3 separate regions of the Homo sapiens genome follow, and regions 2 and 3 are each linked to region 1. The links come from fine-mapping of genetic effects on gene expression. A gene starts in region 1. Each other region holds a variant in brackets. All regions are shown on one strand. Distances are from middle to middle. Region 1 holds the start of POLM (DNA polymerase mu). Region 2 holds the start of MIR6837 (microRNA 6837). Region 3 has its middle 32 kb from the start of SPDYE1.

Evidence for each region. PIP is the estimated chance that this variant, and not a neighbour inherited with it, causes the effect.
Region 2: its variant is fine-mapped to the expression of POLM in whole blood (TOPMed, PIP above 0.99).
Region 3: its variant is fine-mapped to the expression of POLM in thyroid (GTEx, PIP 0.99).

What each region holds. Positions count from the first base shown.
Region 1 is chr7:44,076,661-44,087,848 of GRCh38, forward strand. It overlaps POLM (DNA polymerase mu), which reads right to left and starts at 5,870. Exons shown (of 11, transcript NM_013284.4): 1 at 5,591-5,870; 2 at 4,073-4,256; 3 at 3,201-3,299; 4 at 2,911-3,081; 5 at 2,080-2,151. The coding sequence starts at 5,778. RefSeq lists enhancers at 2,897-3,804, 5,644-6,144 and a silencer at 5,856-6,435.
Region 2 is chr7:44,048,127-44,059,314 of GRCh38, forward strand. DBNL (drebrin like) reads left to right here. Exons shown (of 13, transcript NM_001014436.3): 2 at 2,099-2,154; 3 at 3,704-3,816; 4 at 4,741-4,815; 5 at 8,631-8,777; 6 at 9,656-9,733; 7 at 10,003-10,154; 8 at 10,306-10,354; 9 at 10,776-10,857. MIR6837 (microRNA 6837) reads left to right here and starts at 3,640; the gene lies at 3,640-3,703. The variant T/C (reference allele first, on the strand shown) is at 5,792.
Region 3 is chr7:43,960,791-43,970,618 of GRCh38, forward strand. It overlaps the pseudogene POLR2J4. Among named protein-coding and RNA genes, the nearest start is that of SPDYE1, 32 kb to the right of the region's middle. The variant G/C (reference allele first, on the strand shown) is at 5,824.

The sequences.
Region 1 (11,188 bases):
GAGCTCTCATGGCTAGACTCGGATGATCACCCGCTCCGGGACGGTGTGGCCCATGGAGCACCATGCACCAGGCAGGCGCCGTCCCCACTCGCAACCTGCCGTAGACCACAGGGCAAGGATTCAAACCTGGAGCCTGACTACCCAGCCTGCCGTCTCTGGGAACAAACCCACGCACACCCCTCTCCTCTCCTCTATGAAAGGGACTTACACAGCTCTAGCCTGTGATTCCAACATAATCAAAACAGTCACCCTAACACATCAGCACGAGGGGCTCCTAAGTCACTGGAAAAACCATGCCTCTCCCACCTAACAGAAGGTGGAACAAATTTCTGTGGTTCTCCTCCTTAGCCAACAGCAAAAAACAATGAGGAGTTAACAATCAAAAGGGTGGATTTAGGAGCAGAGTTGGCAGGGCTGGCTGGGGTGCTCACATATCTTCCCACAGAGGGTGGGCCCCAGCCCAAGCAAGTCACCTGCTTCAGGTCAGCCACTAGAGTCCCTCCCTAGGAATTCTGGATCTGAGACTGAGGGCAGGCCCACACAGTGGCAGAAGCTGTAGCCTGTGGCAGCCGAGCACCTTTTGTGGCCACATTTCCAACCGATGGAAGAAGCTGGTGCGTCGCAAGAGAGGGCGAAGCCACCGTGCAGAGGGGCAGAGGGGAGGAGGAGTGGCCTGGTGATACCCAGGTCGCTGAGCCCAGTTGTCCTGCAGACCGGCCACAGCCCTCCCCATCCTGGGCTCTGCTGGCCCTCCTTTCCTTTATTTTGTGAACCAACGGTGTGGGGTGGGTCACTGTCACTTGCAACCCAAAGAATCCTGACTAAAAATGATGAGATTAACCCAATTATATTGTTAATAAACTTCTCATTACTAATGTAATTTTCTGCCAGCCTAGATGCCTTCAGGGCTGGGGCTGAGGCTGACAGTGAAAGTACTCACTAACCTCACACCACTTCAAGGGGATTTCATCATCTTCAGGCCCCTCACTCCCACACTCACCACGGTGGCCCCACTCATCTGGTCCCCTGTCCCTGCCAGTGCCCCTTGCCCCCTTCCCTGCATATTTGAGCCCATTTGCCCTGCACACACTGCTCAAGTCTCTCCTCTTCGAAGCCCTCCCTGTCAATCCTGACAACATTCTGTGTGACCTCCCAAGGCCCCATCCACCCAGGAAGCCACACTTCACTGACAGTTATCCATGTGGCCACCGCTGTGACACCTCCAGCCACAAAGCCAGTTGGCAGAAGGGTGTCAAAGCAGGCACACCCGAGGCATCCAAAAGAACTCAGACGGCATTTCCCTATCAGACCAGGAGTGAGCAGAAACAGAGGGAAGGTGGCCATGGAAACAGGCAGGCTGACAACACTGAGAAAATAACACATAAGGTCCTGCAGAAGGCGGGCAAGGGCAAGCCCAGCATGCTCAGTGGCAGCACCCAAGGGTACATTTGGTTCACAGTGCTCTGTTTAAGATGCCACAGCATGTAATCTACTTGAGAATATTCCATCAAAAACAGTCAAGGCAGAGCGAAGTGGCTCATGCCTATAATCCCAGCATTTTGGGGACCAAGGCAGGAGAATCATTTGAGCATAGGGGTTTGAGACCAGCTTAGGCAACATTACCAAGACCCCATCTTTACGAGAAAGATTTAAAAATTAACCTGGTGTGGTGGCACATGCCTGTAGTCCCAGCTACTCCAGAGACTGAGGTGGGAGGATGGTTTGAGCCCAGGAAGTCAAGGCTGCCGTGAGCTGTGATCGCACCACTGTACTCCAGCCTGGGCGACAGAGCGAGACCCTGTCTCAAAAACAAAATAAAACAAAAAGCCCCAAAAGCCAGATGGTGCTGAGTGATCTAGAAAATTCTGTCCTCAAAACAAGCTTCTTCCTTGCCTGTCTCCACTTGGCTGCCTTGTGCATATCAGGTATCAGCTTAGCTGCCACTTCCTCGGCAAGACCTTCTCTGACCCCTGGGCTGGGTCAGCTGCCCCTGTTTGCCTCCCCGTGCATGGTGTGGACTGTGTTGTCATTCCCAGGGCAGGACATTCCTGGGGTAGGTCCGAGCCCTGCCCTGCGCACCTTCATGGTCTGGTACCTCTCTGAGCGCCGAACTCTCTCCACCTCCTCACACACTCCATGCTCCAGCAGCTCCTGGGGGAGGGAACAAAGCAGAACTCTAAGCCTGAGGGCGTGGGAAGAAAGAGAAGGGCGGGGAGTTAGGGTCAGGGCTGGGGGCCCAAGGACTGAGGCAGTCCCCTCCAACACCCGGCAGAGACAACTTTGTGAGGTCAGGGTCCAGTAGGACCTGGAAATGGAGACTGTGCCCAGGGAGGTGACCAAAGTTGCTGCCACACAGCTGGGAGGTCAGGGCTCCAGCCTCAAAGCTCCTTCGGGCCTGGAGTTACAGCAGCTGAGATGCCAGGTAACGTGGATCATCTCTCAGTCAAATAAGTCCCAAGATACATAAACAATTGCTTTTCAGAACATGTGAACTCAATACTACTTCATTTAAAAGCATCTTCTGTCACTGTGTATTCTTGCAATGAAAGTGCACTAAAGGACAACTAAACACACTGGGGCACTGAAAAGAGATGCTCACACTCAGGGTGCTCTCTTTCATTCCACTGTGGAGGGCAGTTTGGGACTAATGACAATGACAACAGTGTCACCCCTAGCCCTGCCAGGCCCCTCACAGCGCCATTCACTGGGTCCTCTAGGCCACCCAGGAGTAAATGGCTAGTGTGCACAGGAGGAATCTGAGCGCAGAGGGTGGCTTGTTGAGGCCTTGGAGCAGTGTCAGCACCCACGACTGTCTGTCCTCACCCACCCCCACAGCACCCTCTGCTGTCTCACCAGGCCCCAAGGCCTCCCCACCCACCCACTCACCCTGCTAGGATGGTAAGCACCTACCTGGACAACCCTAGAGGAGTGTTCTCCAAAGTGGGGAAGCCCCTGCAGCTGGCTCAGGGTTGTGACAGGGCTGGGAAGGGCCTTGAGCACCGAGGCTGCTCTGCAGAAGGTGAGGAGGCGGCCCTCACTGCCTTCAAAGCCTGCTGCCTCGGCCAGTATCTCCAGAGCCTCCTGCAGGGAGGGGCCCTAGGTAAGGGGCAGGGTGGGCAGCTCCAATCCCCCACCTACCACCCATCTGTACCCTTGTCCCCAACCCCCAGGGCTGGCCAAGGCTCATAGAAGCGGCTTACGGAGAGGCCAGTGTTGTGGTGTGTGAGGGGCGTAGGGCGCTGGCAGGCATAGGCAGGCATCCATGCTGGGCTCAGAGGCCCCTTCCTTGGCCCAGCCACCTGGGGATGGGCAATAAACAGGTCACTGTGAGGCTGCAGGGCTGGCAGGAGAGCCAGGCCGTACTCAGGCTTTGTTTCTCCTGGGGTGTCCAACTCGGGCCCTCTGGAGCTCATGGGACAGAGGTGGGCAACAAAACACCAGCGGCATGAGGCTGAGGGAGGCACCGCCCTGCAGAACAGGCTGTGCATGGGGCTCCTCATGCCAGGGTAGCAGCAATCACATCTGCCAGCCCTGTGGGCACTTCTCCTGCTGCTGCACATGATGCATGTACTCCATCACCCCAATCCTCACAACCAAGCGGGCTGGGGATGCTGAGGCCTTGGAGGCTAGGGGCTTGCCCCACAACCATGGCTCACAGGCTGGGCCAGGATTTGAAGGCAGGCAACCTGGCCCCAAGCCCACACCTGTCAGAGGCCGGGAGCCTTATAGCATCCAGAGGACAGGCTCCTGCTAACCCATGGGTCATCCCGCTCGGAGTTGCTGTGTCATCTACTTGGTGAGGAAGAAAGGCCTGAAGAAGGTAAAAATAAGCAGACCCCAGAATTTGCATCAGTGGTGAGAACAGAAGCTGAGATGGCCTGGCCCCCTCAGCCCCTTCTGTGGTTCCTCTACTGGTTTATAGGGGGCCCCTGGTGATCTGGGTAGAGTCTTCACTGCCCACCTCCTCTGAAGGACATTGAGGCATTGCTGCCATGTCACCTGTCCCAGCTGAGCAATGGCCTACACTGGGGCTTTCACTGTAGCCCCCACTTTAGTCTTCCACCCAGCTCACCTCCAGGCGGTGCCGGCACTCCACAGGTACAGGCTGCCCAGCTCCCAGGCTCTCTGTTAACCAGCTTATGTCCAGCAGAGCTGGGGGGGTGCAACCCGGGGGAGCAGCTGCCATCCTGCGCTCCTGCCAGCTGACGGCCTCCTCTGCTGAGGTCTCTTCCATCACAACATGTGTCGCTTCGGAGCTGGTGGAGGGAGTTGGGAGAGAAGGAGGAGGGTGAGGCCCAGAGCCCGTCCTGGTTGGCTCCAAGCCTTCACTCTTGCCGTCCCTTCTGCATGGTAAGTGACCATTCATCCTGCAAACGTCACCTCCTCCAGAAAGCCTTCCCAGCCCCTCCTCCTGGTAGATGAACACCTCCACCACTCAGCCCTCAGAACCGTAGTTCTCTGCCCTGGCTATGTTCACAAGCACAGCCCAGTCTTGTGCTCTCTCCCTCCCTCTTCACCTCAAAGAAAGGAATTCCTTAGGGTCAGGACCAGGTGGTCTTCATCTAAGAGCAAGGGTTTCAGCAGAGATGGAGGAGCCTGTTTGGGTCTGAACCCCAGCTCTGCCTGCCACATACTTGTTTGGCTCTTGGGCAAGCCACGTGTCTATACTTTGATTTCCTCTTCTGTAAAGCAGAGATAACATATCCACCCTGTGGGGTTGTTGTACAAAGATAGTGCCTTGTACACTCTAAGCTGCTATCATCCTCTCCTGAGTGGGTCTGGCGCACTACTGATCCCTGGTAATGTTAAAAAATCAAACACAACTGTGGGGGAATACTAGCCCCAGGTTCGTTTGCTCTCTCAACCTCCAAACTAGGGGGCACCCCCAGCTCCCTTACTCTGGGTGTTGTCTCTGTAGCCGCCATTTTTTCTTCTCTTGGTTCCCTTCCTACAAGAGCTTCTCAGTCGTGTTATTTACTCAGGCCTGAGGACAGAGGAGCCTGCGGGCTCCGGGCCTCTTGAGAAGTCAGTCTCGCTCACAGGTGGGACATAGCCCAGGCAGAAGGGCTGTTAGCAAATACGACTTTTTTTTTTTTTTTTTTTGAGACAGAGTCTCACTCTGTCGCCCAGGCTGGAGTGCAGTGGCGCGATCTCGGCTCACTGCAAGCTCCGCCTCCCAGGTTCATGCCATTCTCCTGCCTCAGCCTCCCGAGTAGCTGGGACTACAGGTGCCCGCCACCACCTCCGGTTAATTTTTTGTATTTTTAGTAGAGACGGGGTTTCACCGTGTTAGCCAGGATGGTCTCGATCTCCTGACCTCGTGATCTGCCCGCCTCGGCCTCCCAAAGTGCTGGGATTACAGGCGTGAGCCACCGCGCCCGGCCTACTGCTTATTAATTACCCCTGACCTCTGGTTTTGATTCTCGCAGTGATCCTTTAAAACACGCCTCGCCCTAATTAATAGCACCCTTTACAGAAGAGGAGATGGAGGCTCAGGGAAAGGTCACAAGACCACGAAGTGCCACTGCAAACTTAGAATCCAAAACCAGAAGTGCCATGGAAGCCCTCGCCGCGCCGCGCCGCCCCGCACCTGCAGGCGTCAAGGACGCGGAAGCCTTTGGAGCGCGCCAGGCCTGTGAGGAAGGCCCGGCGGCTGCGACCCATGCGAGGCTCGACCAGGTAGATGGCGACTCCCGGGAAGCGCGTCGAGGGCGGCGTGGAGGAAGCGGCATCGCCGCTAGGGGACCCGACCCGCGCTCGCCGCCGTTTGGGGAGCATTGGGACGACAGCCTCCAGCAGCGCGGAGCGAACGCAGAGGGAAACTCCGAGCGAGACGGAAGGAAGCCCCAGTGAGGCTGACGGAAGCGGGTGGGCGGGCGGGCGGCCGCCGGCTGGAAGAGGACGTGGCCCCGCCCTATGCAAATGAGGCCTCTCCGTGGGGCTCGCTACTTGGGCCAGTCGGAGCGCTGGGGAGGGTCCGGGCTCCTACAGGATTGGGTGTCCCGGCCGCTCCGGAAGACCCGCCTCCATGCAAATAACGGCAGAGGACCCGCCTTTTATTTAAATTAATGTCTCGGAAAGCGCTGTTCGGCCCCATTGGCCTCCGGGAGGAGAGGCTGGGCTGGAGCGGGGCGGGGAGGGTGTTGGAGGGGGTGGAGGAGGCGGGGTCAAGGGGGCGTCCCCGGCTAGGGAGGGTGAACTGGGACCTAGGCCCGGGCGGAGCGGGGTGGGCTGTGTCCTTGGCGCCGGGGCTGGGTCTAGGGTTGAGCCGGCGGCTCGGGGCGGACGCGTGCGGGCTGTGCCCGATCCCTCTGCGCTCGGGACTGTCACACGGAAGCCGGCGGGCGCAGGACCGACACGCGGGTTTCCAATGCGCTGGTGGGGCGGTCGCTTCAAACACGCGGGAAGATTTTTCAGTCGAATGGCATTAGGACAACTGGCAGGCCATTTGGAAAAATAGAAGTTGGTGCCCTTCCTCATTCCTTAACACCAAAATAAATTCCAGATGGGTCAAACATTTCCATCTAAAAAGGAAACCAACAACGTACTGGAAAAAAGTCGGTGAATGTTTTTATGATCTAAATATCACAATAAACTTGGAAACACTAAAGGAAAAGAATGATAAACTGGACTACAGACAAATTTTAAATCTGATTAAAAATTAGAGTCAGAAGATAAACTGGGATAAAGTGTGAGATATTTTGGAATTAAGATTATCTCATGATAATCTTATCAAATTGTCCATAGATAAAAAGACAATAATTTAATAGAAAAATTAGCAAAAAAACTCACGTAGATGATTCTTAGAAGAAATCCTGGTCAATAAATTTATGACCAGAGTGCCCAACCTGTCCAGTCGTTACAGAATACCTAAATGAGAATATCTTCAGTTGTGGGTTTATCAAACATTCAAAAAAATTGACCACACATGTTGAAGGTGCGAGGTAATTGGCAATCCATAGGAAGGACTGTGGAAGCCAATGTGGCAACCACATCCAACAAAATGAAAACAAAATAATACACATTGATCCAGCAATTCCTTTCCCAAGATTGGGATTGCATTGAATCTATAGATCAAGCTGGGGAAATCTGATGTCTTGATAATATCAAGTCTTCTGTCTATCTTATTTAGATATACTCCATTTGTAACCTCTGTTACGGTAGTGTGGCACTGCTCAGCCTAACTGATGGGACACCAGATCAGATGCAACCCCCTTCCACATGCCTCTCCTCATCACTGCCCCATCGTCCTCAGTCTTGAGCCCCAGACTCCTTGAGCACCTATCCTTTTTCTTTGGCTCCTCTCTGACATCTTTAGTGGGCTGGCTCTTCCCCATCTCTGCACTCAGAGCACAGGGCTGAGGGGAGTGGGGGAGATGGCTCAGCCCAGGCATCCTCTTGACCTCCTACACCATCTCCCAGCCTCCTAATTCATCTACCTCTTCAGGGCTGTAGAGCTTCCTGGGCCTCAGGACCCACATACAGAAGCCAGGAGGCCTGCGTATGGTCCCTCTCTCCCCATCCTCCCCTTGTGCCAGCAGGGATGGGCAGGCTCTAAGGGTCTTCGTCTGTGGATCTGGCTCCTACCCTTCTCAAGGAGGAGGCTCTGCCCAAATATCCCCTGAGCAGATCCCTCTAGCTGTCTAAAACCATTTCTGTTCCTTTTAATGTCCTCTGTCTGGCCAGAGCACCTGGGCTCCCCTTGGAGCCCTTGTTCTCTCCTGGGAAGGCAGAGGCAGTTTTTAAGACTATGAGACCTGAATACTTAAAACACTGGGCAACTGTGCAAAAATGTTTGTGCAAGGAATCTCATCCAAATGACAGTGGAAGAAACTGCCTAGCTTAGAAATCAGCCAGGCCCTCTGAGTGGTTGCTGCAAAGTGTCTGCTAGGACAACATGGGGCTGAAGGATTCATGAAGATTGGCCAGTGGGGGCAAGAAGGGGTGAGGAGGTGGGGAGAGAGAGGGACTTGCCTGCTCTGCAGGACGAAGATGTGCCCTATACCCAGGGAGAGGTGGCCTGCCGTGGAGGTGAAACCACCTTTGCAGAATTGTAAGTCATGAGAGAAATCTAACATGACTGCCTCCCTCTTGCATCTAACCTCACAGACTAAATTGGTTTTCTTATTTCTTTTTTTTTCTTCTTCTTCTTGTAGTGCAGAGGCCAACATAACTATGAGAGGAATTTAGTTCATAGTTAAAGGCAAGAAAAACTGACCCCCTCCTTGTTTGGAGATTGAAACCACATTCATAAGACAAGGTTAGAATTGTGGTGGGGCCTGAACTTTGCTAAAGAATGGGCATAAACAGCGACCTGCCGTTTCTCACTTGGCTTGCTTTTCTATAATGCTTACTGCCCTGGAGTCACATAGCCGGAAATCTCAAGATTTCTAACTTCTCCAGCTGCTCATATAGAGGCCGGGCACAGTGGCTCACACCTGTAATTCCAGCACTTTCGGAGGCCAAGGCGGGTGGATCACTGGAGGTCAGGAGTTCGAGACCAGCCTGGCCAACATGGTGAAACTCTATCTCCCTAAAAATACAAAAAAATTAGCTGGGAGTGGTGACACATGCCTGTAATCCCAGCTACTCAGGAGGCTGAGGCAGGAGAATTGCTTGAAGCTGGGAGGTGGAGTTTGCAGTGAGCTGAGATCATGCCACTGCACTCCAGCCTGGGAGACAGAGCAAGACTCCGTCTCAAAAAAAAAAAAAAAAAATCACTATTATGAAACCTAAAGAACTTTGAGATATTTTCTAGATTTAGAATTTTAGCAGACCAAGAGACACTACCTGGACCTGTGACCCACACCAAGAAACTGACTCAGCTGCTTGAAGATAGTTTTGATACCTCTGTGATTTCATCCACTGCCAATCAGTTGTCTCAGCTCCCTAGTCCCCTGCTTGCTGAAGCACCCTTAAAAACACTAGCCTCTGAATTCTGGGGGAGGTGGTTTTGAGAATTATCTTTCATCCTCCTTGCTTGTCTGGCCCTGCAATTACAAAACTTTCTCTGCTGCAACAGTGCCCCCACTGGAGAACATGGTGAGGGGGTGTCCCTGCTGGAGGATGGTTGGGGAGGGGGTCCCTGCTTGAGGATGTGGGAGGTATACCTGCTGGAGGAGGGGTGAGGGAGGGTGTCCCACTGGAAGATGGGGGTGGGGCGCAGTGGGGAGCCATACTAGGGCCAAGAATATCCCCAGGACTGGAGGTAGCTTTTGCAGCTTAAACAAGAGGCATAGTCGCGAGGGCAGGTTAGGACTTGGGTGTGTCCAAGAGGCACTTGGAAGGAGTTGCCCTTCCCAGAGGGTGGCCCTTGAGCTATGGAAAAGATCCCACTGAAAGGAGATGGTTAGATTATCTCCTGCACATTGGAAATTGTCTTTGAGTTTCCATCTTCAATGGGCCTGGTTTCCCTGTACTTGTCTGTGGTGGTCACTGTGGGAAGGCAGTGAGGAGTGGGTCTGGGGAGGGAGAGGGACTGCCACAGGGGCAGCAGTGGCCACCCCCCACAGGTCCAGACCATCCCCTCTCCAGAGTACAGTGGAGCAGGGTACACCTAAGAGCTCCAAATAATACTTAGGCCCAGGCCCCTCCCCAAATAATCCAGTTTAATTGGTCTGGATATGGCTTGGGCATTGGCATTTTATTTATTATTATTAATTTTTTAGAGACAAGGTCTCACTCTGTCACCGAGGCTGGAGTGCAGTGGCACAATCACTCTTGGCTCTTGTGCTCAAGTGGTACTTCTACCTCAGATTCCTGAGTGGCTGGGACTACAGGCATGTGCCCCCACGCCTGGCTAATTTTTTTAAGTTATTTTTTGTAGAGATGGGGGCTCTCACTATGTTGTCCAGGCTAGTCTCAAACTCCTGGCCTCAAGCAGTCCTCCCACCTGAGTCTCCCAAAGCGCTGGGATTACTGGCATGAGCCACCAAACCCGGCCGACATTGGCATTTTTAAAGTTCCCCAGTGACTGATGTGTGGCCAAGGTTGAGATTCACTGCTCTAGAGGGAGGGGACCCTTCAGGGAGATGGAGACCCTGACAAGAAGCTTACGCGTGTAAAAGTGAGAGCTGAGAACCACCTGAATATCCAGTGACCAAGAGCTGGTGGAATAAATGTTGCTGTGTTCATACTGTGGAATATTATGCAGCCATTAAAAATGATTCTGTGAAGTTTTACTCTTAATCACCCAAAACTGTAAACACTCCAGATGTTCTTGACCCAGGGAACAGCTTCACACACTGGTGTGTGCATCCCATGGAATGCTAAGGAACATTGAGATGAAGGGAACCGGTAATGCAGCAGCTTGGGTGAGTCTTCAGTGCCTCATGCTAAGTGGCAGGAGACACATATGCTCTGATCCCATTTATATGACAACTCGGAAAAGGCAAAACTATAGGATAGAAAACAGACCAGTGATGGGCAAGGCTGGGAGCTGGGGTCGACTACAAAGAGTTTGAAGGCATTTGGGGGTGATGGAATGTCCTCTATCTTGACTGTGGTGGGAGTTACAGGTTACAAGACTGTGTTTGTCAAATTCATAGAATTATGAACTGAAAAGGGTGAATTTTACAGTATGGCAACTATACCGCACTCAGCCTGACTTTTAAAAACTGGTGCTGGCTGGGCGCAGTGGCTCACGCCTATAATCCCAGTACTTTGGGAGGCCGGGGTGGCAGATCAGGTGAGGTCATGAGTTCAAGACCAGCCTGGCCAACATGGAGAACCCGTATCTCTACTAAAAATACAAAAATTAGCCGGCCATGATGATGGGTGCCTGTAATCCCAGCTACTCGAGAGGCTGAGGCAGGAGATTGCTTGAACCCGGGAGGCGGAGCTTGCAATGAGCCGAGATCGCGCCATTGCACTCCAGCCTGGGTGACAGAGCGAGATTCCATCTCAAAACAACAACAACAACAACAACAGCAACAAAAAAATGGTGCTTTATGGCCATATTCAGTGGCATGAGAAGATTTGACACGGTTACCTGATGAAAGCAGACAGCTGTATGTATAATGTGAGGCTGTTTTTGTAAAAACACACATATATATGTCATACATGGAAAATAGAGGTGCAACAAAGCTAAGCAAATGGTTGCAGTGGTTAGTAGAATTGTGGGTGATTTGAACATTTTTCATTTTGTTTGTACTTTCTAAAATTTCTGCAGAGGGCATGGATTGCTTGG
Region 2 (11,188 bases), 29 kb before region 1:
CTGGTCTCAAACTCCTAACCTCAGGTGATCCACCCGCCTTGGCCTCCCAAAGTGCTGGGATTACCGGCATGAGCCATCGCAGCTGGTTGAGTCCCTTCTTGCAAGAGCTGGGTTGAGCTGCCATCTTCTGTTACCTGCTGCTTGTGCCAGCTTGCTATCTTCTGGGAGCCAGGGCTTTGTGGCCATCAAGAGGAATGGGCTTCTTTCCTCCAGGGAGTTCCCCCCAGCTCATGCTGGCAGTGTGCCACCTCCCAAATCTTTCTCTTGTTTTTCTGTGTTCTTTTCTCTAGTTCCTTTTCTCTGAGTGTTTCTCATTCAGTGTTTCTCTCCTGTATTCTGTCTCCCCTCCTGGTAAGGAGTGCCTTTTCCCGGAGGCCTGTCTCCTCCCTACCAACCAGATCCACTGGGCCTGGGTCTAATTTCTTCCATTTTTCTGAGGCATAAGTATCTCTGCCCAGTGGCACTGGCAAAGCCCTGGGGAAGCCAAGTTGAAGCTGATTTGGTTCCTGTCCGACTGTTTATCCCTGGAGCTTCTGTCTGGCCTGCCTCAGCAGGCCTGTGCTTTAGAGCCTGGGGAGATGACACACACTGGACTGGGTTTTGCCTTTGACTTATAGTCCAGTGGGTCAGTGCCTCCAGCCCATGTCCAGCAGCCCTGCTGGGGATGTTCAGTTGCTGCAAGGTTCATGCTATTAGCAAGCCAGAATGAATCTTTACCAGAGTTTTGTTTTTGTTTTTGTTTTTAAGAGTTGGGGTTTCACTCTGTTGTTTGGGCTGGAGTACAATGGCATCATCATGGCTCACTGTAGCCTCGACCTCCCAGGCTTAAGCAATCCTCCCACCTCAGCCTCCCGAGTAGTTGGGACTACGGGCATATGCCACCACGCCTGGCTGATTTTTGTATTTTTGGTAGAGACAGGGTCCCACCATGTTGCCCAGGCTGGTCTCAAACTCCTGGGCTCAAGCGACCCTCCTGCCTCAGCCTCCCAAAGTCCTGGGATTACAGACACGAGCCACCCACCTGGCCCAGAGTTCTGTTCTTTTTTTTGAGATGGAGTCTCACTCTGTTGCCCAGGCTGGAGTGCAGTGGCGCGATCTTGGCTCACTGCAAGCCCCGCCTCCCGGGTTCATGCCATTCTCCTGCCTCAACCTCCTGAGTAGCTGGGACTACAGGTGCCTGCTGCCACGCCCAGCTGATTTTTTGTATTTTTAGTAGAGATGGGATTTCACCGTGTTAGCCAGAATGGTCTCGATCTCCTGACCTCGTGATCCACATCTGCCCGCCTCGGCCTCCCAGAGTGCTGGGATTACAGGCGTGAGCCACTGCGCCCAGCCCAAAGTTCTTATGAATAATTAATCTTTCAGGAAAAGAAAGCCATGGCCCCATGTCACCCATGGAGAGATAAGGCTCTGCTAGATAGAAAACTTGCTCATGGGTACCTGTCCGTGAGGGGCTTGGCAGGTTCATGGCTTTAACTGTGTGATTTCATGTCGTGTCATTCCTTTGTGGTTTCTGATAAACACAACCTGTGGTAGTCTGTGTTTACCAAAGAGTCTCAAGCCTGGAAGGACCTGCTGCCCTACCCACCAGGCTTCACTGGAGCCAGGGCAGACGTGCACAGGAGTGGTGGGCAGCCTTCCAAGGGGCCCAGTGTGTGTATTTCTCCGACTTGCTTCTCCTTTTGGGTGCTCTGGGTTCAGGAATATGTAGATATGTTTTGTCTCTTCAAATCCATATACCTAGTGGCCAGGTGAGTATTTGACACATGAATGTATAGCAGTCATTGGGAAACTCCACAGCTCATGTTTTCCTCATAGTAGATGTGTGCTCCCATCTCCATGGCTTTGTCCCTCACAACCCCCACCCCATGGTAAGTCAGGCCAGTGTCCTCCCAGCTGCAGAGCTGAGAAGGCTGCACAGTTGCCTACTGAGAACCTGCCTAGTGGGTCAGAGCAAAGTGAGAACGGGCCTGTGCCCACCCACAGTGTTACTGTCAGCCCAAGCTCTTTGGGATGTAGTGGAAAGTCATGGTGGATACGGTGAGGAGAGATGGAACCCAAGGTGCTGGCTACAGAGCTCACTTGTGTTTCGTTTCAGGGCTCTCTTTACCTATGAAGGCAACAGCAATGACATCCGCGTGGCTGGCACAGGGGGTGAGTATGACTCCAAATGGACTCAGGGACACCAGGAGGTAGGAGGGTGACGACGAGGGGTCAGCGCACTCAGCTGTCTTGGTCCACTGAGCCACATGGGGCTTCCAGTGCTCACTGGCCACTTCTGGCAGGCCTTAGGTTTCAGATATGTGTAAGTGAAAACATTCCTCCTTGGTTCTCCTTCCCTCTGGGTGCAGGGGAGTGCTTTCTCTTTGTCTACTTGGGGAGAGCTGAGAGGGAAACAGGCCTCTCCAGCTTGTGGGCAGCCTGCGTTGGGAGCTGCGGTGGGAAGCTCACCAGTCCCAGAACTGGTGCTGGTGGAAAGAAAGTCCACAGACATATCTTCTTCTCCCTTTGTCCTGCCCTGGTCTTGTGCCGAGTGCTTGCAGGGGCCCCATCCTCACTGGGAGAGGCAGTATCACTGCAGATAGTCACGGGGGAGGCTCTGGAGGTCTCTACAGGAAGGACAGGCTCTTGGCCAGCACAGAGCAGAGGTTGTCAGGGTAGGCTTCGTCAGAGTGTGACCTGTGGGCCCCTCAGCTGACACCCGTGACTGCTCCTCCTCCAGAAGTTGCCTGACCCCTCCCTCTGTCCTGAGCTGGACATGGCTTCATTGTTCAATGAACACTCGGAGTGGTTCTCCACGGTTTGATGTCTGTTGTTGGTAGAAAGCCCCTTCCTTTCACAATCTTTCTGGGAGGTGTCCCCTTTCTAGAAGGATTGCCATTGAACAGTAGACATGTGGTGTGGCAGGTGACTGGGAGTTGCAGAGATCAACAACTTGAGAGTTTCCTGTCATCCCCAGTGGCACAGGACAGGGCTCTGCCACAAATGCAACAATTTGCTGTCCCCAGAGTGGGGCTCATGACTGCCTCCACTCATACGGAGCCCTGTAGATGAAATACCTGATCAGCTCTTCCTCCTTATAACCTGGAAAAGTTTGTGAGGGCTAAGCCTCAGTGTCAGGGAGAATTGTTTAGAGCTGCCCACTCCTGTGCTCCCCCTGTCCCCATCACCCTCTCTTCTGGAGTCTGAGGACTGAGCCAGTTACGCCACTGCAGGATGTTCAATCTGGTCTGGCCGTCTGGGTGGCCCTGGAACTTGAGCAGACACAGGTGCAGGCAGTGGTGACTCTACAGGCCCTGCTATTCCGGGCCCTTTTGCAACGTTGTGGCAACAATAAAATTTTGACGTAGCCATCCTCCATTTGGAAGTCTGGTGGCTGGTTTGCCGTGGAAATGACCCTGTTTTTATTTCCAGAATTACCTCTGGGTTTAGAGAAGTGGTTTTTAAACGAGTGTGGGTAAAAAAAATTACCTGAGGTACTTGTCAGAATCGCAGACTTCTAGGTCCCACCCAGCTCTCATCAATCAGTTTAGTGAGGGTGGTGCCCAGGACTCTGATTTTAAACATACCCCTAGAAAGATTCTGATACAGGTAGAGGTGAGAAGCCCTGGTTTAGAAGCAGCTCGGCCTCCCTTCATGGTGGGACCAGGGCCAGCAGGGAATGTCAGGGCCACCCCTGACCTTCACTGTGACTCTGCTGCAGAGGGTGGCCTGGAGGAGATGGTGGAGGAGCTCAACAGCGGGAAGGTGATGTACGCCTTCTGCAGAGTGAAGGACCCCAACTCTGGACTGCCCAAATTTGTCCTCATCAACTGGGTATGTGGAGCCTGTTTCATCTAGGTGTGACCCAGGAAACCCCATTGTCTTCTTTCCTGTTTTGACTTGACTTCAGGAACAAAGTGTTTTACTGGCATGACTTAGTAGATCAATAGAACAGCTCTGAGCTGGTGAATGAGCAGAATAGTTGACAGATTCATTGTGGCCCAAAGAATAACTGTGGCTTTGCTATGCAGAATTCACCTTCCAAGCCTAGAGTTCTTCCTGCAAAATGGATTAAAAGCAGTCACAGGGAGTCCTTGCTCCGTGCTCTTGAGGGTGGTTGTTCTGATGGAGTAGAGAGCCTGAGGGAGTGTTTAGGAGCCTGGGAGTACAGGGACAGGGCCTCCTTGATCCCTTGGTGGGGATCAAGAAAACTCTTGAAGGCTGGGTGGGGTGGCTCACACCTGTCATCCTAGAACTTTGGGAGGCCGAGGTGGGTGGACTGCCTGAGCTCAGGAGTTTGAGACCAGCCTGGGCAACATGGTGAAACCCCATCTCTACTAAAATACAAAAAATTAGCTGGGCATGGCAGCGTGCACCTGTAGTCCCAGCTACTCAGGAGGCTGAGGCAAGAGAATTGCTTGAACCCAGGAGGCAGAAGTTGCAGTGAGCCAAGATTGCGCCACTGTACTCCAGCCTGGGCCACAGAGCAAGACTCCATCTCCAAAAAAAAAAAAAAAAAGAAAATTCATGAAATGCCCCCACAGCGAAAGCCGGTAGCCATCCTGCCCAGGGAGAATCCATGAGCCCCTTGGAGGCATGGGAACTTACCTCACCCATGTGATGCAGTCAGAAGAATAGGTTCTGCTTTGGGGGTTGCAGTTTTCTCTTTTCTGGGACACAGGGTAGATGTTGGGTCCCCAGGGAAGGGAAGTGGCTTTGGGGGAGGCCTGGGTCAACCTGGGCATCCTTGTGTTGCAGACAGGCGAGGGCGTGAACGATGTGCGGAAGGGAGCCTGTGCCAGCCACGTCAGCACCATGGCCAGCTTCCTGAAGGTAAGGCCAGGTGAGGCCCGCTTCACTGGGAACAGGCCTCACAGGCTTGAGGTCTCGCAGGTTCCTGGGTGCGAGCAAGTGGGAATCAGAACTGGAGTTGGGAGTGTGCTCATAGCTAATGCTCTCTGCCTGCCTTTGAGGGCATGACCAGAGGCTGCTTCACTCTCGGTCAGTGAGTGCATGGGAGGTCAGGATGTTGCCAGGGCCACCTACAGGCCTGCCTCAGTGGGGCAGGATAAAGGACTATGCTGGAGCTGGTGCCGTGAGAAGGGTGGGCCCTGGTTCTGTTTTGTTTTATGATCCCTCTAAACAGTTTAGTAATACCGTCAGGATTTGGAGGAAGGGGAGAGTGCCCACCATCTTAGCACGCATGTGCCCTTTTGATGCATTCCTTTCCAGCCCCCTCTACATGGAGTTATGTCAGTCCTATAATAGAACCTTTTTAAATTTTAAAAACTATTTGTAACAAAAGCATTTGTTGGTCACTTGTCAGGTAACTTTTTGCATTTCTCTGGCAAAGGAGACTCAGAATTTTGATTTCTCGTTCTGCCAACATTTCTTCAGCTATACCTCAGTTTCCATCTAGGAGCTGATAAGAGAATTCCCAGCTTATCGATATACAGGTTTGAGTATCCTTTATCTGAAATGCTTAGGACCAGAAATGTTTTGGATTTTTTCAGATTTGGGAATGTTTTCAGTTCAGCATCCAAAATCCGAAATTCTCCAGAATCTGAATTTTTTTTTTTTTTTTTTGAGACTGAGTCTCGCTCCGTTGCCCAGGCTGGAGTGCAGTGGCGTGATCTTGGCTCACTGCAAGCTCCGCCTCCCGGGTTCACACCATTCTTCTGCCTCAGCCTCCCGATTAGCTGGGACTGCAGGCACCCGCCACCACGCCCAGCTAATTTTTTGTATTTTTAGTAGAGACGGGGTTTCACTGTGTTAGCCAGGATGGTCTCGATCTCCTGACCTCGTGATT[T/C]GCCCGCCTTGGCCTCCCAAAGTGCTAGGATTACAGGCGTGAACCACCACGCCCAGCCCAGAATCTGAGATTTTTTGAGTGCTGACATAATGCTTAAAGGAAATGTTCATTGGAGCAGTTCAGATTTTGGAATTTTAGGTAAGGGATGCTCAACCTGTATAGCAACAGTGAATGACGTCATGGGTCTGGCTTCTTATGAAGAAATCATTGGCTTACTTTTTGTAGAAAACATGCATGGCATTCTTTTATCAGAGTTTTTTTTAATTGTTTTGTTTTTTGTTTGTTTGTTTGTTTTGAGACAGTCTCACTCTGTCACCCAGGCTGGAACGCAGTGGCACGATCTCGGCTCACTGCAACCTCTGCCTCCCAGGTTCAAGTGATTTTCCTGCCTCAGCCTCCTGAGTAGTTGGGATTACAGGTGCCTGCCACCATGCCCGGCTAAGTTTTCTATTTTTAGTAGAGATGGTGTTTCCCTGTGTTGGCCAGGCTGGTCTGGAATCCCTGAGCTCAAGTGATCTGCCCTCTTCAGCTTCCCAAAGTGCTGGGATTACAGGCGAGAGCCACCGCACCTGGCCCAGAGTTTTTATAAATTGATATATAATAGTTGTACATATTTTTTGCATACATGTCATATTTTGATACCTGTATACAATGTATACGATGAATCAGGGTAATTAGCATGTTCATCACCTCAAACATTTATCTTTTCTTTGTGTTGGGAACATTACAATTTTTCTCTTCTAGCTAATTTGAAATACACAAAATTATTGTTAACTATAATTTCCCTTCTGTACTATTGAATACTAGAATTTATTCCTTCTATTTAACTGTACTTTTGTACCTGTTAAGCAACTTCTCTTCATTTTCTCTCCCCCATGCCCTTCCCAACCCCTGGTAACCAGCATTCTACTCTCTCCCTCCATGATACCCACTTTTTTAGCTCCCACATGAGTGAGAACATGCAATACTTGTCTTCTGTGCCTGGCTTATTTCCCTTAACATCATGACCTCCAGTTCCATCCATGTTGCTGCAAATGACAGGATGCCATTCTGTTTTATGGCTGAATAATATTCCCTCATGTTTATATACTAAATTTTCTTTACCCTTTCATCCATTGATGGACGTTTTGGTTGATTCCGTATCTTGGCTATTGTTAATAGCGCTGAACTTCAGAGTTGGATATATCCCCAGCAGCTGGATTGCTAGATCATATGGTAGTTCTGCTTTTAGTAGGACTAAAATACTGTTTTAAAAACCATACTGTTGTCTAGGCGCGATGGCTCACGCCTGTAATCCCAGCAGTTTGGGAGGCCAAGGTGAACAGATTACCTGAGGTCAGGAGTTCAAGACCAGCCTGGCCAACATGGTGAAACCCCGTCTCTACTAAAAAAATACAACAATTAGCCAGGTGTGGTGGCGGGCACCTGTAATCCCAGCTACTCAGGAAGCTGAGGCAGAGAATCTCTTGAACCTGGGAGGTGGAGGTTGCAGTGAGCCGAGATTGTCCACTGCACTCCAGCCTGGGCAACAGAGTAAGACTCTGTCTCAGAAAAAAACCCAAAAAACCATACTGTTTTTATAATGGCTGTACTACTTTACATTCCTACCAACAGTGTATAAGAATTTCCCTTTCTCCACATCCTTGCTAGCATTTATTTTTTATGTTTTTTATAATAGCCATTCTAACTGTGGTGAGATGATAGCCCGTTATGGTTTTGGTTTGCATTTCCCTGATGATGGTTAGTGATGTTGAGCATTTTTTTGTATGTAGTTAGCCATGCGTATATCATCTTTCGAGAAATATCTGTTAAGGTCTTTTGCCCATTTTAAAATCAGATTATTATTTTTTTGCTACTGAGTTGTTTGAGTTCCTTATATATTCTGGTCACTAATTCCTTGTCAGATGGATAGTTTGAAGATATTTTCTCCCATTCTGTAGGTTGTCTGTTTACTTTGTTGATTGTTTCATTTGCTGTGCAGAAGCCTTTTAGCTTGATGTAGTCCAATTGGTTGATTTTTGCTTTTGTTGCCTGGGCTTTTGAGGTCTTAACCCAAAAAAAATCTTTGCCCAGATCAATGTCCAGGGGCATCTACCCAGTGTTTTCTTTGAGTAGTTTCATAGTTTCAGGTCTTACATTTAAGTCTTTTTAACCCATTTTGAGTTTTTTTTTAATATGGTAAAAGATGAAGATTTAGTTTCATTCTTCTGCATATGGATATCCAATTTTCCTAGCCCTGTTTATGAAGGAGACCGTCCTTTCCCCAGTGTATGTTCCTGTCACCTTTGTTAAAAATGAGTTGGCTGTGTGTGTGAGTGCTCTGTTAGTTTCCATTGTTGTGTCTGTGTTTATGCCTGTACCATGCTGTTTTGCTTACTGTAGTTTTGTAGTTTAATTTGAAATCAGGTAGCATGAAGCCTCCAGCTTTGTACTTTTTGCTTCAGATTGCTTTAGCTATTCAGGGTCTTTTGTGGCTTCCAGATGGCATTTAAAATTAGTTTTCATTGATTAGAAGGAAGGCCTTTGATGCAAATTATGCCTGGGCTGTCTATTGATACACAGCAGGGAACAGCTACAGAAGGAACCACTGGATAGCACAGTGGAGGTCAAGGGTCTCACGTGAACTGGGACAAGAATGAGGGGTTTGCTCCAAGTTGGTTTGTTTGAGCCCTTGAGGGGAACTCGTGCCTCAGTTTTCAGCAGCCAGACAGGTGCCTTCTAGTTTCCTGATTCCAGTCCTGTGTGGTATAGTAGTGGCCCGTGCTGTATGGACTGACAGGAGTTTGGCCCATCTCCTGGGCTTGCAAAGCCCTTCTTTCAAGTGCTGCTCCTGCTGCAGGGGGCCCATGTGACCATCAACGCACGGGCCGAGGAGGATGTGGAGCCTGAGTGCATCATGGAGAAGGTGGCCAAGGCTTCAGGTGCCAACTACAGCTTTCACAAGGAGAGTGGCCGCTTCCAGGACGTGGGACCCCAGGCCCCAGTGGTGAGTGCTGCTTGCCCATCGCCAGCCCTTTTGTTGCTCAGGGCCTGAGGCAGGGGGCCAGGAATATGCACTTCCCAGCACCCGGGCTGGCTGGGCCCATGCCTGCTTAGTTTCTGCAGATGGTAACCCCTGAGCTGTGGTGATTGCCCACTGACCAGATGAGCAGGAATAGCCCTCTGACCTTGCCTAGGGGTTGGACTAGCTGTTCTGGAGCCTTCCTCTGGAGCCCAGCCTGTGTGGTCAGAGTGGAGGCTCTGCAGCATGCATGGCTATGATAGTCTGGCTGCCCTCAAGGTCATGGCACTGGAACATCTTGGGCTGCCCCTGGAGGTAGCCACCGTGGAGGAACTAAAGGAGGCATCAAGGCGGAGCCTGAAACCAGAGCAGGCCCCTTGGAGTCACGGGAGATACCTGTGGGCCTGTGGCCCCAGTGCTGTGTGGAGCTGATGGCTGGGAGCTGCGTCCGCATGCGTGTGGTTGGACGTGATTCCTTGGATGCTCTTGTGGTAGTCAGCTGTCTGAGTGCCCCTGGTCAGAGGCCTGCCTCAGAACTGCCCAATGTCTAGGAGTCTGCAGGTGGGGTATGGGGGCCTTTCTTGCCCTGGCCCCCATCCATGAGGGCGAGAGACCACCAGAGACCCCTCTAGTGTTGTCTGGGATTGAGCATCCCCCTTGGGGCAGTGTCCTGGGCTTCTTTCAGGTCATCTTGGTGTGTGTCTCCTTGAGGGTCACTGGGCAGTGCTCTGCTGCCTCTGCTGGGTCCAGTCCTAGCAGCACTCACCTGTGCTGTCGCAAGTTTAGCGTATTCTCTCCTTTGGTGCCTGTGGGCCTGGCCTTCCACCTGGGTCCAGGTCTCTAATGAGTGCTGTCCCCTACAGGGCTCTGTGTACCAGAAGACCAATGCCGTGTCTGAGATTAAAAGGGTTGGTAAAGACAGCTTCTGGGCCAAAGCAGAGGTGAGTGCTGCCCCGGGGCATGCTGGGCACGTGGGAGTGTTCTGCTTGCTGTGGCTCATCTTTCCTCACAAGTGAGCTCATGCAGCATCCACTCTCCTTGGTGCCCATTACAGATGGTCACACTGAGGCTCGGGTAAGTTAAGCCACAAGGCTAATGATCGACTGGCTCTGGTGCCCGTCTTTGGCCATGTGCCTAAAACTCAGTCCTGGGCAGGGGATTAGGCTGAAGTGGCAGCATAGGGCTGAGCGGGCAGTGGCTCTCCCTGCAGAAGGAGGAGGAGAACCGTCGGCTGGAGGAAAAGCGGCGGGCCGAGGAGGCACAGCGGCAGCTGGAGCAGGAGCGCCGGGAGCGTGAGCTGCGTGAGGCTGCACGCCGGGAGCAGCGCTATCAGGAGCAGGGTGGCGAGGCCAGCCCCCAGAGGTGAGCCAGAGGTGGAGGCTGGCCTGGGGGACCCACCCTGAGGCATTGCTGGGCACCTGCTCCATCCCATGGAGGCGAGGAGGACTAAGGGGTGTGGCATGAGAAGCTGTGACTGTGCCTCAGCTGTGCCCCACCCGGCCCTTCCCAGCAGGACGTGGGAGCAGCAGCAAGAAGTGGTTTCAAGGAACCGAAATGAGCAGGTAAGATGGGGGTGCTCTACTTGTTTGGACCTGTCCTGGCCACACGCAGAAGTCCCTGATCTCGGATTGAGGGCCCAGCCCAGACCTGGGCAGAGGCTGCCCTGCAGTCAGCTGGGGCAGGTTGGAATCTGGGCACCTCAAGAGGTGGCAGTAGAGAGGAAAGCCAAAGGCGGAAGCGTCGGGCTTGGACCACACCTGGTCCTGGGGGAGGCCCTGGGAGCCCCTTGGCTTCTGTGTTTTACTTCCTTTTTTAACGTTACTTTTTATTTTTAAATGACTTCTCTCCTGAGAACATGTTTTGCCTCCTGGCCCCACACTCACCTTTGAGGGGCTACTGGGCCGACAGCTGGAGGGGCTGTGATCTGGGGAGAGGTGGTGAAGGTTTTGCCCACTGCAGGGGTCAACATGTGCTTCCCTCCAGGAGTCTGCCGTGCACCCGAGGGAGATTTTCAAGCAGAAGGAGAGGGCCATGTCCACCACCTCCATCTCCAGTCCTCAGCCTGGTGAGCTCTCCCTTTGGGCCTGGCCATGAGGCAGCAGCAGGCTGAGGGGGAGCCTGGGGTCCTATGTGGGCTCCCCCAAGGCTAGTGACAGATATATCGGTGACGGGTGAGTGAGTGAGGAGAAGGGACACCTGGGGCCATTGACCTCATCAGTGACCACACTGGTCACCAGTTTGGCCTCCAAAAGATATTGGGCTGCGCTGTCTACCACGTCACCACATAGCACATGGCCCTGGGGCCTCTGTTCCTGCACTAGCAAGAGCAAGCCCCATGAGACTGCCTCGAGCACACCAGGGTGGAGGGTGCTGTGGGGTGCGTGGGTGTGTGGTGG
Region 3 (9,828 bases), 120 kb before region 1:
GCCATTATTTTAGAAGTGGGTTTGTTACCCGAGAAGGGTGTCCAGGTTCTTGGTGTCATGAACAAAGAATTGGACAAAATGCACAAAGAAAGCAAGGAAAGAATGAGGCAACAAAAGCAGAGATTTATTGAAAATGAAGGTACACTTCACAGGGTGGGAGTGGCTTGAGCAAGTGGTTCAAGAGCCTGGTTACCGAATTTTTTGGGGGTTAAATATCCTCTAGAGGTTTCCCATTGGTTACTTGATGTACACCCTTGTAAATGAAGTAGTGCCCACAATCAGTCTGATTGGTTGAGGGAGGGGACCTATCAGAGGCTGAAGCAAGTTTCAAAGTTACACCCTATGCAAATCTCTGATTGATTGGGAAAAGGCTGAAGTGAAGTTACAAAGTTATACTCCTATGCAAATGAAGACTTGGCCCATGACCAGCCTCATTGGTTGTGGAAAGGGACCAATCAGAGGTACTTTCAATTTTTCATCTACCATGCAGAAAAAGGTTGGGGGTGGGGGTTGCAAAGGAAGTAGCCAAACAAACTCTGACTACAAACAGAGGTCCCAGTGGGTAGGGGGCTGGGACAAAGCTTTTGGGGGAGGGGGAGGACAGAGGACCTTGGGGCTGGGGGATCTAAGCTGGCCCCTCAATAAAGGGCCTCCTCGCCACCTCCCAGCCCACTGTCCCACCTCTGCCCTTGGCTCTGTTCCTTGCCTCCCTCCTGTCTGACCCCATCTGCCTCCTACAGGAGGAGCCCACCCACCCCCAAACACCTCCCAGCGTTCTGGGCCCAGCTCCTTCCCAGGCCTCACTGGTGCGACTCAGCTCCAGCTGGAAGAGCAGGTCCAGGAAGTCCTTGGCCAGCCCCTGCCCCAGGAAGAGCTTGAGCAGGTTCGTGGCCACGTCCTGGCGACACTCGGTGCTGGTTGTCTCCTCGATGAGTGGGATCAGCTGCCCTGGGCCCTGCAGGGAGAGGCACGGGGGATCCCGAACCTTTCCCTCTGAGGACCTCAGAGCATCCCAGGGAAAGAGGACATTTTCCCAAGGGGTGGCTGGGGATGGGGCCCTGGACACTGGCCAGCTCCTCACATCCCCAGACCTCAGGTTTCTGCTCTGCAGAATGGGTTTGGAAGGACAGGCGCACAGGCCTACTGCCACTGGACCCTCCCACCCTGCCCAGGTCCCCTCACCTGCATGCCCAGCTTGACCTCGTGGCACAGCAGGTGCACCAGTGGCTGGTAGTAGCTGGAGGGCAGCACCGTCTCGTCCCGCAGCCGCACCTCCAGCTGCAAGGAGCCCAGGTTGCCCCTGGAATGGGCAGCCTGTGACCTCTCCACCAGGGACTCAGGCCACCCTGGACCACACCGCTCCCATGGCCTCCAGTTTTTTCCCTTGGGGCCAGCCTCCCATCTCTCTGCTCATGCCCTCCATCCGGGTGCCCTGCACAGCTCTGCCTCCCAGGCTCTGCCCGGGCTATTTATTTTCTGTTTTTGGAAAGCCCTTCCTGTCTCTGCACTCAAGGCACCTCTATCTGTCTTCGAGGTGTGGCTCCCTGCCACCTCCAAGCTTGGGTATGTGGAGCTGCCAGCCTTGAATCTATCAACTCCCAGATAATGGCACCATCATGGGTACACTTTACAGCAGAAGCAAATCCCCAACCCTCATAACAACCTAATAGGGAAACTGAGACCCGAGCCAGTTCAGCAACTTGCCACATTAGATTGAGCTTCCCAGCTTCCCTGTTCTGATAGGGAAGTTCAGAACAGAGGAGGGTGTGGACCAAGTGGGAGCCTCTAAGGCTCCCACTGCCCGTGCTCAGCACGAGCCTCATGCACAGAGCAGTGTTAAGATGGGCCCCTGGGCCTGGCGCAGTGGCTCATGCCTGTAATCCCAGAACTTTGGGAGGCCAAGGCAGGCAGATCACTTGAGGTCATGAGTTCAAGACCAGCCTGGCTGACACGGCAAAACCCCATCTCTATTAAAATATATATATATAAATTAGCCAGGCATTGTGGCAGGTGCCTGTAATCGCAGCTACTCGGGAGACTGAGGCAGGAGAAGCGCTTCAACCCAGGAAGCAGAGGTTGCAGTGAGCCAGGATTGCACCACTGCACTCCAGCCTGACTCTGTCTCAAAAAAAATAAATAAATAAAAAATAAGATGGCAAGATGGGCCTTGGCTGGTTCTATGGAAACACCTTGTGCTGGACACACAGCCGTCCACCTGCTCCTACCCTGTTAAGGATGGGAACTGGGGGAGTGGGGGTCTGGGGCCTTCCACAGAGACACAAAGCTGAACCATTGAGGGCTGTGGGCCACAGCAAACAAGCCAGAGGGCTTCCTAGACAGGCTGCCAGATTTAGCAAAACGACCCAAGACACCCAGTTAAATGTGAATATTTTATTTACTTATTTTTTTTTTTTAGAGATGGGGTCTTGCTATGTTGCCCAGGCTGGTCTTGAACTCCTGGGCTCAAGTGATCCTCCTGCCTTGGCCTCCCAAAGTGCTGAGATTATAGGCATGCGCCACCATACCCGGCCTAAATTTGAATATTTTTAGTATAGGTATGTCTCAAATAGTGCATGGTCATTCTTCTTCTTTATTTATTTATTTTTTTTGCTGAGATGGAGTCCTGCTCTGTCACCCAGGCTGGAGTGCAGTGGCACGATCTCGGCTCACTGCAGCCTCCACCTCCCAGATTCAAGCAATTCTCCATCCTCAGCCTCCCAAGTAGCTGAGATTAGAGGTGCCCGCCACCACATCCGGGTAATTTTTGTATTTTTAGTAGAGCCTCACCATGTTGGCCAGGCTGGTCTTGAACTCCTGATCTCATGATCCACCCGCCTCGGCCACCCAAAGTGCTGAGATTACAGGCATGAGCCACCGCACCCAGCTGTTTTCTTGAGACGGAGTTTCGCTCTTGTCACAGAGGCTGGAGTGCAGTGGTGGGATCTCGGCTCACTGCAACCTCCATCTCCTGGGTTCAAGCAATTATCCTGCTTCAGCCTCCCAAGTAGCTTGGATTACAGGTGCCCACCACCATTTTTTGTACTTTTAGTAGAGACGGTGTTTCACCATGTTGGCCAGGCTGGTCTCGAACTCTTGACCTCAAGTGATCCACCCGCCTCAAACTCCCAAAGTGTTGGGATTACAGGTGTGAGTCACCACGCCCAGCGGTTATTCTTATACTAAAAAAGTATTCACAGCCGGGCACAGGTCAGGAGTTCAACATCAAGCCCGGCCATCACGGTGAAACCCCATCTCTACTAAAACTACAAAAAATTAGCCAGGTGAGGTGGTCCTAGCTACCCGGAACGTTGAGGTGGGAGGATTGCTTGCACCCAGGAGGTGGAGTCTACAGTGAGCTATGATCACCACTGCACTGGTGGTACAGGTGCATGCCTGTAATCCCAGCTACTCGGGAGGCTGAGGCATGAGAATTGCTTGAACCTGGGAGGCAGAGGTTGCAGTGAGCCAAGACCATGCCACTGCACTCCATCCAGCCTAGGTGACAGAGTGAGATGCTGCTCAAAAAAAAAAAAAAAAAAAAATTATTCACTGTTTATCTGAAATTAAGTTTTAACTGGGTGTTCTTTTTTTTTTTTTTTGAGACAGAGTCTAGCTTTGTCACCCAGGCTAGAGTGCAATGGCGCAATCTTGGCTCACTACAACCTCTGCCTCCGGGGTTCAAGCAATTCTGCCTGCCTCAGCCTCCCGAGTAGCTGGGATTACAGGCGCCCGCCATCTGGCCAGGCTGGTCTCAAACTCCTGACCTCAGGTGATCCGCCCACCTCGACCTCCCAAAGTGCTGGGATTACAGGCGTGAGCCACCGAGCCTGGCCTAATTTTTATTTCTTTGTAGAGACAGAGTCTCACTTTCTTGCCCAGGCTGGTCTCAAACTCCTTGCCCCAAGTGATCCTCCCACCTTGGCCTCCCAAAGAGCTGGGATTACAGGCATGAGCCACCGCTCCTGGCCAACGGTGTCCTATCTTATCTCACAACCCTATTCCTGGAGAATCTGGCATAGGGAGTTGGAGCTATGGCTCAGGGACACTGACCTTGGAGACTTGAACCCTGGTCTGAGGTCTGCAGGGAAATTTTCAAAGGGAAAATGTCTGAGTACTTGTTTCAGAAACTTCCAGAGGCAGAAAGCAGGAGACCTGTACAACCTGTGAGCTAAGAAGACAGACCTGGCCGGGTTTGGTGGCCCATGCCTGTAATCCTAGCACTTTGGCAGGCTGAGGCGGGTGGATCACTTGAGGTCAGGTGTTCGAGACCAACTTGGCCAACATGGTGAAACCCTGTCTCTACTAAAAATACAAAAATTAGCCGAGCATGGTGGCACACAGTTGTAATCCCAACTAATCAGGAGGTTGAGGCAGGAGGATCACTGGAACCCAGGAGGTGGAGGTTGCAGTGAGCCAAGATTGTGCCGCTGCACTCCAGCCTGGGTGACAGAGCAAGACTCCATCTCAAAAAAAAAAAAAAAAAAAAAAAAAAGACAGAAGACAGAGCTGAGCTGAATGCAGAACTGTGGGGAAAAATAAAGGGGAGGGGCCGGGCGCGGTGGCTCATGCCTGTAATCCCAGTACTTGGGGAGGCCGAGGCAGGTGGATCACCAGGTCAGGAGATCGAGACCATCCTGGCTAACATGGTGAAACCCTGTCTCTACTAAAAATGCAAAACATTAGCCAGGCGCAGTGGCGGGTGCCTGTAGTCCCAGCTACTTGGGAGGCTGAGGCAGGAGAATGGCGTGAACCTGGGAGGCAGAGCCTGCAGTGAGTCGAGATCACGCCATTGCACTCCAGCCTGGGGACAGAGTGAGACTCCATCTCAAAATAAATAAATAAATAAATAAATAAATAAATAAATAAATAAATAAATAATAAATAAAGGGGAGGTGGAGCCCAGCCGGGATGAGAAGGATGCTGGCTAGGTGGGCAGGGGCTGAGGGGACCCTGGAGCTGTGTCTCCTGACCTCTCACCCCTGAGCAGCCCCCCTGCCCTGCCTGCCTGTAGCCAATTCCCAAATGTCAGCCCCCACCCCACCCCTTGAGGCCGGCTGCCCAGCTCCATGCACTTACTCGTCATGCTGCCGGCTCTTGGACTGGTCGGGCTGCAGCCGGAACCAGCCCTCCTCCTGCTGCGCCACCCGCAGTCTCTGGACATCGATCACCACCTGGGGACATAGTGGCAGTTTTCCTGGAGCTGGGAGACTTAGGTCTCCTCCTTGCCAACTACTGTTCTTAGTGGGGAGGGGCCTCTTCCAAGGGTCCCTGAGTGCCAGTGGTGGTGGGGGGAAGTTGCTGGTTCTGGCAGACGGTGGAGGTGGGGGGGTAGTCCCAGGCTTCCTGAGTGTCCCTCTTTGGGGAAGCCAGAAGGAGGTCCCTGAGGATGGGATGGCTGCAATGGAGCCAGGTGCTGGGGGACAGCAGGTGCAGCCTGCCGGGGGAGGAGGGGGGGCGGGGCGGTGGTGCTCACTTTGCCCAGGAAGTCGTTTCGGCTGACAAGGTCCCAGTCCCAGGCCTCCACGCACAGCGCCTCCACGGCCCCCTCCTGCAGCTCAAATTCAAACGTCTCATTCCAGCGTGGGTAGCATGACTTCTTCATGATCTGCCCAGAGGAGGGTGGGAGGGGGTTAGGCTGATGCCACTGGACTCCCCAGGCTGGGCAAAAGGCAGAGCTGCCCTAGACACCTCCCCTGGGTTCCCCACAGCCTCCTCGCCTTGGAGGTTCTGCCACAGCAGAGGTTAAAATGTCCTGTCCAAGCTCCCACCCATTTCTCAGATGGGGAGAACTGAGGCCCAGGGTGGGGAAAAGATGTATCCGAG[G/C]CCACACAGCAGAACAGTACTGACTATGAGGATGTGGTGAACAGGGAATACCTCTACACTGCTGGTGGGAATGTGAACTAGTACAACCACTATGGAAAACAGCGGAGATTCCTTAACTAACTAAAAGTAGAACTACCATTTGATTCAGCAATCCCACTACTGGATATCTACCCAGAGGAGAAGTCATTATACAAAAAAGATACCTGCACACATATGTTTTTGTTTTGTTTGTTTTGTTTTGTTTTTGAAACAGTCTTGCTCTGTCGCCCAGGCTGGAGTGCAGTGGCACGATCTCAGCTCACTGCAACCTCCGCCTTCTGGGTTCAAGTGATTCTCCTGCCTCAGCCTCCCAAGTAGCTGGGATTTCAGGGGCCTGCCGCTACGCCCAGCTAATTTTCGTATTTTTAGTAGAGACAGGGTTTCACCAGGTTGGCCAGGCTGCCCTCAAACTCCTGACCTCAGGTGATCCGCCTGCCTTGGCCTCCCAAAGTGCTGGGATTACAGGCGTGAGCCACCGCGCCTGGCCCTTTTATTCTTTTCTTTTTTTTTTTAAACAGGGTCTTGCTCTGTTGCTCAGGCTGGAGTACAGTGATGCAATCATAGCTCACTGCAGCCTCCACCTCCTGGGCTCAAGCAATCCTCCCACGTCAGCCTCCCAAGTAGTTGGCACTATAGGTGTGCCCCACCACACCTGGCTAATTTTTAAATTTTTTTGTAGAGACTGGATCTTGCTGTTGCCCAGGCTGGTCTCGAAATCCGGGCCTCAAGAGATCCTCCCACCTCTGCTTCCCAAAGCACTGGGATTACTGGAGTGAGCCGCTGCACCCTGCCAGTATCCCCTACTTAGAACTCTTTGTGGAAGAACACCAAAGCCCACTCATCTTCGATATTTTAAGCCTCTCATACCTGCCTTTCTTCCCCCTCAAGACTGTCTAATAAAACCCCCCAACATTGAGGCTGGGTGCAGCGGCTCATTCCTATAATCCCAGCACTTTGGGAAGGAGGCTGAGGCAGGAGAATTGCTTGAACCTGGGGAGGCAGAGGTTGCAGTGAGCCAAGAAAACGCCACTGCACTCCAGCCTGGGCGACAGAGCCAGACTGCCTCAAAAAAAAAAAAAACACCAAAAAAAAAAACAGCCCGGGTGCAGTGGCTCACGCCTGTAATCCCAGTACTTTGGGAGGCCGAGGCAGGCAGATCACCTGAGGTCAGGAGTTTGAGACCAGCCTAGCCAACATAGTGAAGTCTCGTCTCTACTAAAACTACAAAAAATTAGCCAGGCGTGGTGGTGCACACCTGTAATCCCAGCTACTAGGGAGGCTGAGGCAGGAGAATTGCTTGAACCCAGAAGGTGGAGGTTGCAGTGAGCTGAGATCGGGCCACTGCACTCCAGCCTGGATGATGGAGCGAGATTGTCTCAAAAACAAAAAACAAAAAAACCCCAAGGTTTTACTGAAATATTGAGAATCTCCCCAGAAAAAATAAGGAGGAAATGTTCTTTCTTCCTCTGCAGCAAATGGACCTTCTTAGGCTGACTTGGAATTGCAGCAGGAGTCTCATTGCCGAGGACAACGGGGGACAAGTCCCCTCACTCTGAGAGAGGCCTGGACATTCCTCTCCCCTGCTAGGACTCACTAGAAGGCCAACCACTGTGGCCCCAGAGGATGGGAGAGGGGAGATTCCTGGAGAGAGGGGAGGGCCAGGGAGACATGCTTCCATGCCTCCCATCTCCGTGGGTGACGATGGGTGCCTGGGAGAAGTGGCCCCGAGGTCCCAGAGCCCGGCCACGTGTGTGAGCGGGTGCACACGTGTGCATGCCTGTCCCCCAGACAGCCTGGTGCCCAGAAAGGATAAGGATGGAAGAAGCAGGTGAGTTGGGGTGGGGCGGGGGGGAATGAATGGCAGGGCCAGAGAGTGAGCGAGTGTGGGGGCGTGGCTGAGGCTCGGCCCAAGCCCAGACATTTTCCATCCATTTCTATTTTCCCAGGACAGAAAATAACTCCCGGGAAGCCAGAGTGAGCAACATGGGCATCATCCGACCCACACCCCTCTGCCCAAGGGAAGTCTTCCTCTTAGACAGGCTGACCCCTCAAGGGTGGGGGGAACACTGGCTCCATAGGGCTGCCTGGCTGGGGGCCACCCTCCTGCCTCACAGGCAGGGAGCAACTTGGGGAGGTGGGTTTGGAGCTGGAAGGGAAGACGCTTCTCACGGACAGAGTGTGACTCAGACCCAGGCCCAGACGGGAGTGCAGCCTGCAGCTAAAAATACCCTGGGGGTTGGGGGGTGGCCCTGTCACAGGTGACTCAGGCCCATGGAACCATCCAAACCACTGTCCCTCCTTGGGGGAACCCTCAATTTGCCCATCGGGAGATTTTCAGCAACTCTTTTCACCCCCCCAGCCCCACGAGGGACCCACTTACACACACTCCCACCAGGCCAAGTTCACACTGGCGTTAAACATAAGGAAGCCGGCCTTAGCACTGGGGGACTGAGGCTGTGTGATCAGAGTTCGGGGTCTCCTCACCCGTACCCCCTACTCCACTCCTCTGTGATGGCTCCAGTTCCTCCATGAGAACATTAGACTGTCCCTTAAGGGACATATCCCCTTGAGTGGAAATCACCCAAGAAGCATCTTCAAGTCCAGAAAACCTCCCCAGACCCTCTCTTTTTTCTTTCTTTTTTTTTTTTTTTTTTGAGATGCAGTCTCGCTTGTCACCCAGGCTGGAGTGCAGTGGCGCCATCTCGGCTCACTGCAACCTCTGCCTCCTGGGTTCAAGACTCCTGCCTCAGCCTCCTGAGTAGCTGAGATTACAGGCGCCTGCCACCATGCCCGGCTAATTGTTGTATTTTTAGTAGAGACAGGGTCTCACCATGGTGGTCAGGCTGGTCTTGAACTCCTGGCCTCAGGTGAACCACCTGCCTCGGCCTCCTAAAGTGCTGGGATTACAGGTGTGAGACACTGTGCCTGGCGAGACCCTCTCTTGAGAGCAGGCTTTGATGGGAGGTGGCCAGCTCTGGGACCAGGAGGTAGAGGTGGGGCGAGGGGGGGCTCAGCTTCCTCATTGGGTTTCTCTAGTTGCAGGGGACCCACTGCCCGCCCCCAGGCCCCTGAGTCTCACCTGGCCTCCAGCACAGAGCAGCGTAGCTGGCAGGCCCGGGCCCCTGGGCGCACTTCCAGCCGCAGGTGGATCTCGCCCTGCACCTCCTCATCAGGGTCAACCTCCGTCAGGTGGGCCCACCCGCTGAAACCTGTGGGGTCAGCTCAGCCAGGGACACGGCCCTGAACCCCCATACCCTCCACCCTCAGCCCTACCAGGCACCTTGAGGCACCTCCATAATCTCCTGGGAATCCCCTAGGCACCCGTGAAGCAGGGGCTGGTATCCCCAATGACAGATGGGGAAACTGAGGCTCAGCAGGTGAAGAAACAGCAGTTGGAAGAGCTGGGATTAGAATCTAAGTCAGTGACCTGGGGCCTGTGCCCTCACTATTGTGTCATTTTTGTCGTTGTTGTTTTTAGAGACAGGGTCTCACCCTGTGAGCCAGGTGTGGTGGCGCATGCCTGTAATCCCAGCTCCTCAGGAGGCTGAGGCAGGAGAATTACTTGAACTCAGATCGCACCATTGCACTCCAGACTGGGTGACAGAGCAAGACCCCATCTCAAAAAAAAAAAAAAAAAAAAAAAAAAAAAGATGGAGTCTTGCTATGTTGCTCAGGCTGGTCTCAAACTCCTGACCTCAAGCAATCCTCCCACCTCAGCCTCCCAAGGTGCTGGGATTATGAGCGTGGGCCGCTGTACCCAGCCAGATTCCCCATCTTAAAACGGGAAGAGAGTGGCCCTCCCCTAGGGCTGCTGGGAGGAGGGTCTGAGGCCCAGATGGAGAAGCTACAAGATTGCGCCATTGCACTCCAGACTGGGTGACAGAGCAAGACCCCATCTCAAAAAAAAAAAAAAGATGGAGTCTTGCTATGTTGCTCAGGCTGGTCTCAAACTCCTGACCTCAAGCC